Linked DNA regions of Homo sapiens. The protein of the gene in region 2 purifies or fractionates together with the protein of the main gene of each other region. This does not show direct contact. Each region holds a gene or a part of one and is shown on either strand. Other genes may lie near its edges.

What was found.
Region 1: the proteins of RANBP17 (region 2) and TCERG1 purify together in Homo sapiens (affinity purification with mass spectrometry; one large-scale study listed by BioGRID and IntAct). This does not show direct contact.

What each region holds. Positions count from the first base shown.
Region 1 is NC_000005.10:146,453,833-146,457,332, forward strand, and holds part of TCERG1 (transcription elongation regulator 1), read left to right. Parts: intron 1-685; exon of another isoform or gene 686-730; coding exon of another isoform or gene 731-732; intron 733-1,223; coding exon 1,224-1,449; intron 1,450-3,350; coding exon 3,351-3,500. UniProt on the Homo sapiens protein: Transcription factor that binds RNA polymerase II and inhibits the elongation of transcripts from target promoters. Regulates transcription elongation in a TATA box-dependent manner.
Region 2 is NC_000005.10:171,239,518-171,243,017, forward strand, and holds part of RANBP17 (ran-binding protein 17), read left to right. Parts: intron 1-1,410; coding exon 1,411-1,625; intron 1,626-3,164; coding exon 3,165-3,303; intron 3,304-3,500. UniProt on the Homo sapiens protein: May function as a nuclear transport receptor.

The DNA.
Region 1 (3,500 bases), about 25 Mb from region 2:
TCCACAACATTTCTTTGTCTTTTATGGATAACATTGACATATCTGAAGAATACACATCCCCCTTTTAATAGAACATTCCTTCCGGCCAGGCGCTGTGGCTCATGCCTATAATCCTAGCACTTTGGGAGGCCGAGGAGGGCAGATCATGCGGTCAGGAGATCAAGACCATTGCCAACATGGTGAAACCCCATCTCTACTCAAATACAAAAAAAAAAAAAAAAAAAAAAAATTAGCCGGGCATGGTGGCGCATGCCTGTAGTCCCAGCTACTTGGGAGAAGAATCGCCTGAACCCGGGAGGCGGAGGTTGCAGTGAGCCGAGATCATGCCACTGTACTCCAGCCTGGCAAGAGAGTGAGACTTGGTCTCAAAAAAAAAAAAGAAAAGAAAAGAAAGAACATTCCTTCCTTATTCTGAGTTTGTCTGATACTTTCCTCGTTGTTAGATTGAGGTTATACATTTTTGGTCGGAATAGGTGATGTCGTGTCTCTCTCAGTCACACATTATCTATCTGTCCTTCTTAGATGATAATTAGTTTTGATCACGGGGTCAAGGTATTGCCTAATTTCCTTATTACGTAGATTATGTAGAGTGTTTTTTTTTTCATCCTTTCTTGCAACTTTAAGCAGCATGTGGGTAAATACTTTAAGACCATCAGATAACCCTCTTGTCTAAATTTTTGCCTAGACTCGGCATCCATTGATCATTCATCCAAAACTAGATCATCCATTGATGTAAGTTTTTTTTTTTGTTTTTTTGGTTGTTTGTTTGTTTGTTTGTTTTTTGAGATGGAGCCTTGCTCTGTTGCCCAGGCAGGAGTGCAGTGGCTTGATCTTGGCTCATTGCAACCTCTGCCTTGCGGGTTCAAGTGATTCTCCTGCCTCAGCCTCCCCAATAGCAGGACTTACAGGCGTGCGCCTCCATACCTGGCTGATTTTTGTATTTTTAGTAGAGATGGGGTTTCACCATGTTGTCGAGGTTGGTCTCAAACTCCTGACCTCAGGTGATCCACCTGCCTTGACCTCCCAAAGTGCTGGGATTACAGATGTGAGCCACTGCACCCGGCCCATTGATGTAGTTTTTATCATGACGGTTGCAAAATGATGACTTTCCAACTCCACTTAGACTTAAGAACCTTTTAAATTTGATGGATGTAATTAGAGATCAGTAGCTACATTTTTGTAATTTTAAGAAAGAAAAATTTATTCCTTGCTTTCCCATGCAGGATGGCCCAACAGCAGGCCTTGAGGTTCCGAGGTCCGGCTCCCCCACCAAATGCAGTGATGCGAGGCCCACCACCTCTGATGCGACCTCCTCCACCTTTTGGTATGATGCGAGGCCCTCCTCCACCACCACGGCCGCCCTTTGGACGTCCTCCTTTTGATCCTAATATGCCGCCAATGCCTCCTCCAGGAGGGATACCTCCACCTATGGGCCCTCCACACCTCCAGGTAAAGAATGTAGAGGTTGCCATTTCTTTGTTGGCATCATTATCAATATTATATATGGGTTTTGAGTTAAAAACTTACATTCTTAAATAGTTTCAGTTTATAGGAAAATGGGAGCTAAAGAGAAGATCCATATATTAATATGTTTCTTCTGAATTAGTGGTAGCAGTAATTACTATGGAAATTCAGAATAGGACTTTAGATGGTGATAGAGAAGTATGTGTATAAAACCAGGATTCAATAGTTTTTACCTACCTTTAGCTCTGTGAATTGGCTTTAGTAATGCATCTTCTTTATGGGAAATGAAGTTTGAAATTTTAAGATATTTTTGAGTGGAGAAAATTTATTTTCAATGATATATGTTGCCAGCAAGTCTAAAAATATATGTGTATATGTTCCTGAGTAAGTCTTCCTCCTGGAAATGGTGCCTAGGATAGAATCTGGAAAGTGACAGCAAACACATTTTATAAGCACATAGTTGAATTTTTTTTCTCCCCTGGGGGGAAAATAGGGTTATCTTACTCTTTTTGAAAACGATTTATTATGGGATTTCTTTAAATAAAAACATTTATGGTATTTTAACCTGGGGCATAGATCCTTCTCCAGTGTATCCAGACTTACTGTCTGAGGTGAGGTCATGAAGGTATGAACTCTCAAATGTCTCATTTTGGGATTGTATTCTTTTTGAGTATGTATCTATGTTTTCTTAGTTTAGTCTGTATAATTCTGAAACCAAATAAATATAGTGGTATCATCTGCCTTCCATTAGCTTAGACAGTGAAGAATGAATTATACTAAAAATGGAAGAAGACAATGATGTGCCATTTAAGTGATGTTAATTCTGTTTAGGTAGGGTTGTGGTTATGGAAGAGACAGGTTTTAATACTTTGCTTAATAATTTTATGGCCTTCCTAATAACGAATAGCCTCTCCTTCCTTTAAACACACTGTTAAATGGTTTTATATTTGCTTCAAGGTTAGAATAAGAAATAGTTTTTTTAACTTATTCTGGTATAATCTTTAACGTGAATTTGTTCTAATTTGTGACTTTAAGAGTTAAACCTACTTTGGAGTATTATAAAATGTAATGGACTAATGTAACCCTCTCATTGAAATATATCAAATGTTGTGCTAAGATACTTTCTAATGTTGTCATGCCTTTCTTGGTCTTGGATAATTGTTTGGCTTTATATTAAGTCCAAGTGATTTTCAGCCAAGGGCTCATGAAACGTATTTGGGATAGATATTTTATATAACCTAGATCTGGTGTGCTGACGCTTGAAAGATACTCAACTGAATCCAGCAAAGATTGGAGTATGGGAAAGACATTTTTAGGAAAATAAAGTACAACTTCACACTATTAGCATAGTTTGAGTTCCATTATCCAGATTAAGCTGCTTTTGATAATTGAATTTTAATGTTACTTACAGCTTATAGAGGAAATCTTTTAAATCCCTGCTCAAAATGTTTTTATAATGTCATAATGTCAAATTTTTAATTTTGAAACTCATTTTTATGCACAGTGAAAACTTTTTCTTGAAGGATTCTTCAAGAAGCTGTGGAGACAGTGATGTGCCTGGTATTAAAACAGGATATAAAAATCAATTTTTTAAAAAAAGTAATCCAGCGCCCTGTGTGTGAAAATCAGATCATGTAGAAAGGAGAAAGCAGAATTCACTGACAGTGTTATAACCCAGAGTTGACCACTATTAGTAGTTTGATGTGTTTCTTTCTAGTTTGTTTGGTAATTTTTGTTGCAGACATTTTGCTTCTATGACAGGTGAATGTGTTTGAATAGACTATAAAACTAGTTTCTCTTACAGTGTTTTACTTTTGAATAGAATTCAGTAATAATTTGGAGGAAAAGTAATTAAAGTGACCATTACTGTTTTTGTGAATTAACAGAGACCACCTTTCATGCCTCCTCCCATGAGTTCCATGCCTCCTCCTCCGGGTATGATGTTTCCACCAGGAATGCCTCCTGTGACTGCTCCTGGTACTCCAGCACTACCTCCTACGGAGGAGATATGGGTTGAAAATAAAACTCCAGATGGG
Region 2 (3,500 bases):
AGATGGGGAAATAGGGCCAAAGTGGGGAGTTGGAGGTTCAGGGGAAAAATATCACTGATCAGCCCTCCTGAAATAATGGCATAGACAAGTTGGAATTTGCAGGGAAATCTAGAAACCAGGCACATTTAGGTGCTAGAGTGGAACTATGAAAGGATTAGGGGTGAGAAGGTAGCTGGTGTTATGGTATAGAAGTCAGTAGAAGGCTGTTGCGTCTGCATAGCTATTGCTTCTGTAAGTGTGCTACCACCTGTTTGGTGGTGGGCTTGGAGATATTGGTCAGCAGGGCTGGTAGTTCTAGACACAAACAGGACAAGGAAGAACAAGGACAAAGTGAAACCGAGCAGCATTTCTACCTGTTACTCTTACCACCTCTAACCACAGCAACCTTTAAAAAGTCATGGCAGCTACTCCACTCCCAGCATCCAAATCTCACACAAATGTCTCTTTTGGCCAATTCTAGCCCACAACCATAAAGGGAAGTGGATTCTAAGAAACTTAATTCTTGTTAGCTAAGTTGACACAGTGTAAGCCACTATATTATACTTCTAAATTTTGTAAATTGAATTTAGTTTCAATTTTAGAAGCAATACTCATTTGACCAGGAAAAAGCAGAGGTAAGAAACATATATTACTTTATATTTTTTTAAAACATTATCAAGTATTGCCTAGTAACATACTTACTAGCACACATTTCAGAAACAGAAATCATTGATTGTAAATGCTAACTGTACTACAGAAGATTTTAGGGTGATCATACAAACATTTCTTTGTCTTCTGATGGTCAACGCAGAATTTAAGTACAATTTTTAAAACAATCATCTCTTGAGATCTTCTGAAGAAGGATCTAAGAAGAAAAAGGAAGTAATATTTACTGTACACTGCACCAAGAACTTCTGTGTGTGTTATTTCATTGAATTCGTATACCAAACCTGTGAGGCTCCTAAAAATGAAGTAACTCAAGATCAAATTCATATAAAAGGTCAAAAATTTGCCGAGAATTTAGGGTAATTTACATCTCAGTCAGGTTATCTTTTTCTCTTGACTTAGTTTTATCCTACTTTTTAAAATTTTTTACTGACAGGATAACACATAGAGTAAAATGAATAGTCTTAAGAGTACAACTTAATGAAATTTTACATATCTATGTATACATCTGTGTAATCACCATGCAGATAAAAATATAGAGCTTTTCCAATATAAGGATATTGATTTTTCCTTGGGCCTTTTGTACTTCCAGGTAAACTGCCATATGTATTTATATTTTTTATTACAATGAATAAAAAAAAATTCTTAAAAATATGCTGGGAGGAAGTGAACATTAGCAGTAAAGTAAAAATGTTAAATAGTGTGTCCCATAACTACTTTGAATGACATCTACTTATGTCACTTTCTGCTTTTATCCTGAAACAGGTAATCAGATCCTGTCCCTTGGGAGCCTCTCAAAAGATCAGATTTATCCAATGAAACTCAAGGGCATCTCCATCTGCTATTCAGCTCTCAAGTCTGCCTTGTGTGGAAATTATGTCAGCTTTGGCGTCTTCAAGTTGTATGGGGACAACCATTTTGACAATGTACTCCAGGCTTTTGTCAAAATGCTGCTGTCAGTGTCCCACAGTGACTTGCTAGTAAGCAATCATGCATCATGGGAGTGTTTGTATGAAATGTGAAGTAACACCACCACAGGCCTGGAAGTGTTATAATGAAGCCCAGGGAGTTAGCCTAGAACATTTTATGTTTTAAGACAGCATACTTGATCTAACTTACAGAATTTGGAAAACTATAGTGGCTTTTTTTTTTTTTTAGCATCTCTGCCTGATTATATAGAAACCAATATGTGCCCAATGTAGTAGCAGTAATTACTTGAGTAACATAGCCAAATCATGCTTAGGCTTAGTTCAGGCTTTCCCACCTGCTCCCACTCAAGGTTACAAGTAAAATCTGGAAGGCCTTTGTTAGTCAACCTGTGTAAGAAATGCTTCTTGATCTCCTAGTGGACTAGTGCATCATCTTCCACCTTTATAAACTAATCTTGGAATGGCTGCATCTCAAGCCAAAGAGAGGACTTCCTTGTAGTAGAATGGAATGATCATTGAAGGATATGTCTGTTAGACAGAAATTACAAAGTAGAAACTTGAGTCAAATCAGCCATATGTTAAAATCACCTCATCAAAGAGTTACTTCACTACAGTTAAAGTCCACCAAGACAACTGGTATGGTTCCAAGAATTTTTCTCTAATTTTTTTATTCTAATAGTCAAACAAACCTTCAACTCAGTAATTCTCCAACTTGAAGGTGCATAAGACTCTCTTAACGTGTGTTAAAAATATACATTTCAGAGCCTACACTAGAGCTTGTCATTTAGCGAGTCTGAAGTGGGGATCAGGAAACTGCGTTTTTAACAAGCACCCCAAGTGATTCCTATTGAGTTGGTCTTAACATCACTTTAAGAAATGCTCCTCTGGTTTCTCTTTTTTTCTTTTTTTTTTTTTAGAGGCAGGGTCTTGCTGTGTTGCCCAGCCTGTTCTTAGACTCCTGGGCTTAAGCAATTCTCCTGCCTCAGCCTCCCAAGTAGCTGGAATTACCAGCATGAACCTCCATGCCCAGCTTCTCTAATTTATCTTACAAGTGTGTTTCTTTGATACTGGTTTGGATTGCATTTGAGATTTTTCAGGTATCTTTCTCATGCACTTATCTTTTGCCTGTAGTGTATGGTAAATATTAAGCCCTTTACCAAATTATTATTTAGTTAGATGGATTAGCATTATATTAATACAACAGACTATGGTGCCAAATCCCATTATAACAGCAAATGTCTTTGTGTTTAAAAAACCAACAAAAAAAAGGTTTCCTAGCGACTGTTAAGCACTGTTCAGTGTTACAGTATTCCAATCCAGAAAAATAATTCACACAGTCTTCTAAATATCGTACTGCAGGGATTTTACTTTTAAGTGCTAACCATATAAGGTAAAGAGATCAAGCGATTCCTATCAGAACCCCTTTAAATGCTGGATTGGGACTCATTATGTCATTTGCTCTATATATTTATTGACCTTGTGTTTAAATAAGTTTACAATTTCCAGTATTATAAATGACAATTTTCACTGGACTGTAACATGTATTTTTCTTCTCTGTGGCTTGACATTTAGTATATCTCTGTGTTGTAGCAATACCGGAAACTGAGCCAGTCTTATTATCCACTCCTGGAATGTCTCACTCAGGACCATATGAGCTTCATCATCAACTTAGAGCCTCCTGTACTCATGTATGTTCTCACATCTATCTCAGAGGGACTCACTACTCTTGGTAAGGATCATAGAGGACATTGTTTCCATAGGAAAAACTTGATTATGGGCTTTTAATGTATGTGATTATTGAGACTATCATCCTACAAAGGGGGAAAAGATATTGTGAACCCAAACTGAAAGATTATAATTATTACTTGCAAGTGGGAAAAATGTATTTCTTCATATTTTGATACATAGTCAGTTATGTTTTAATCA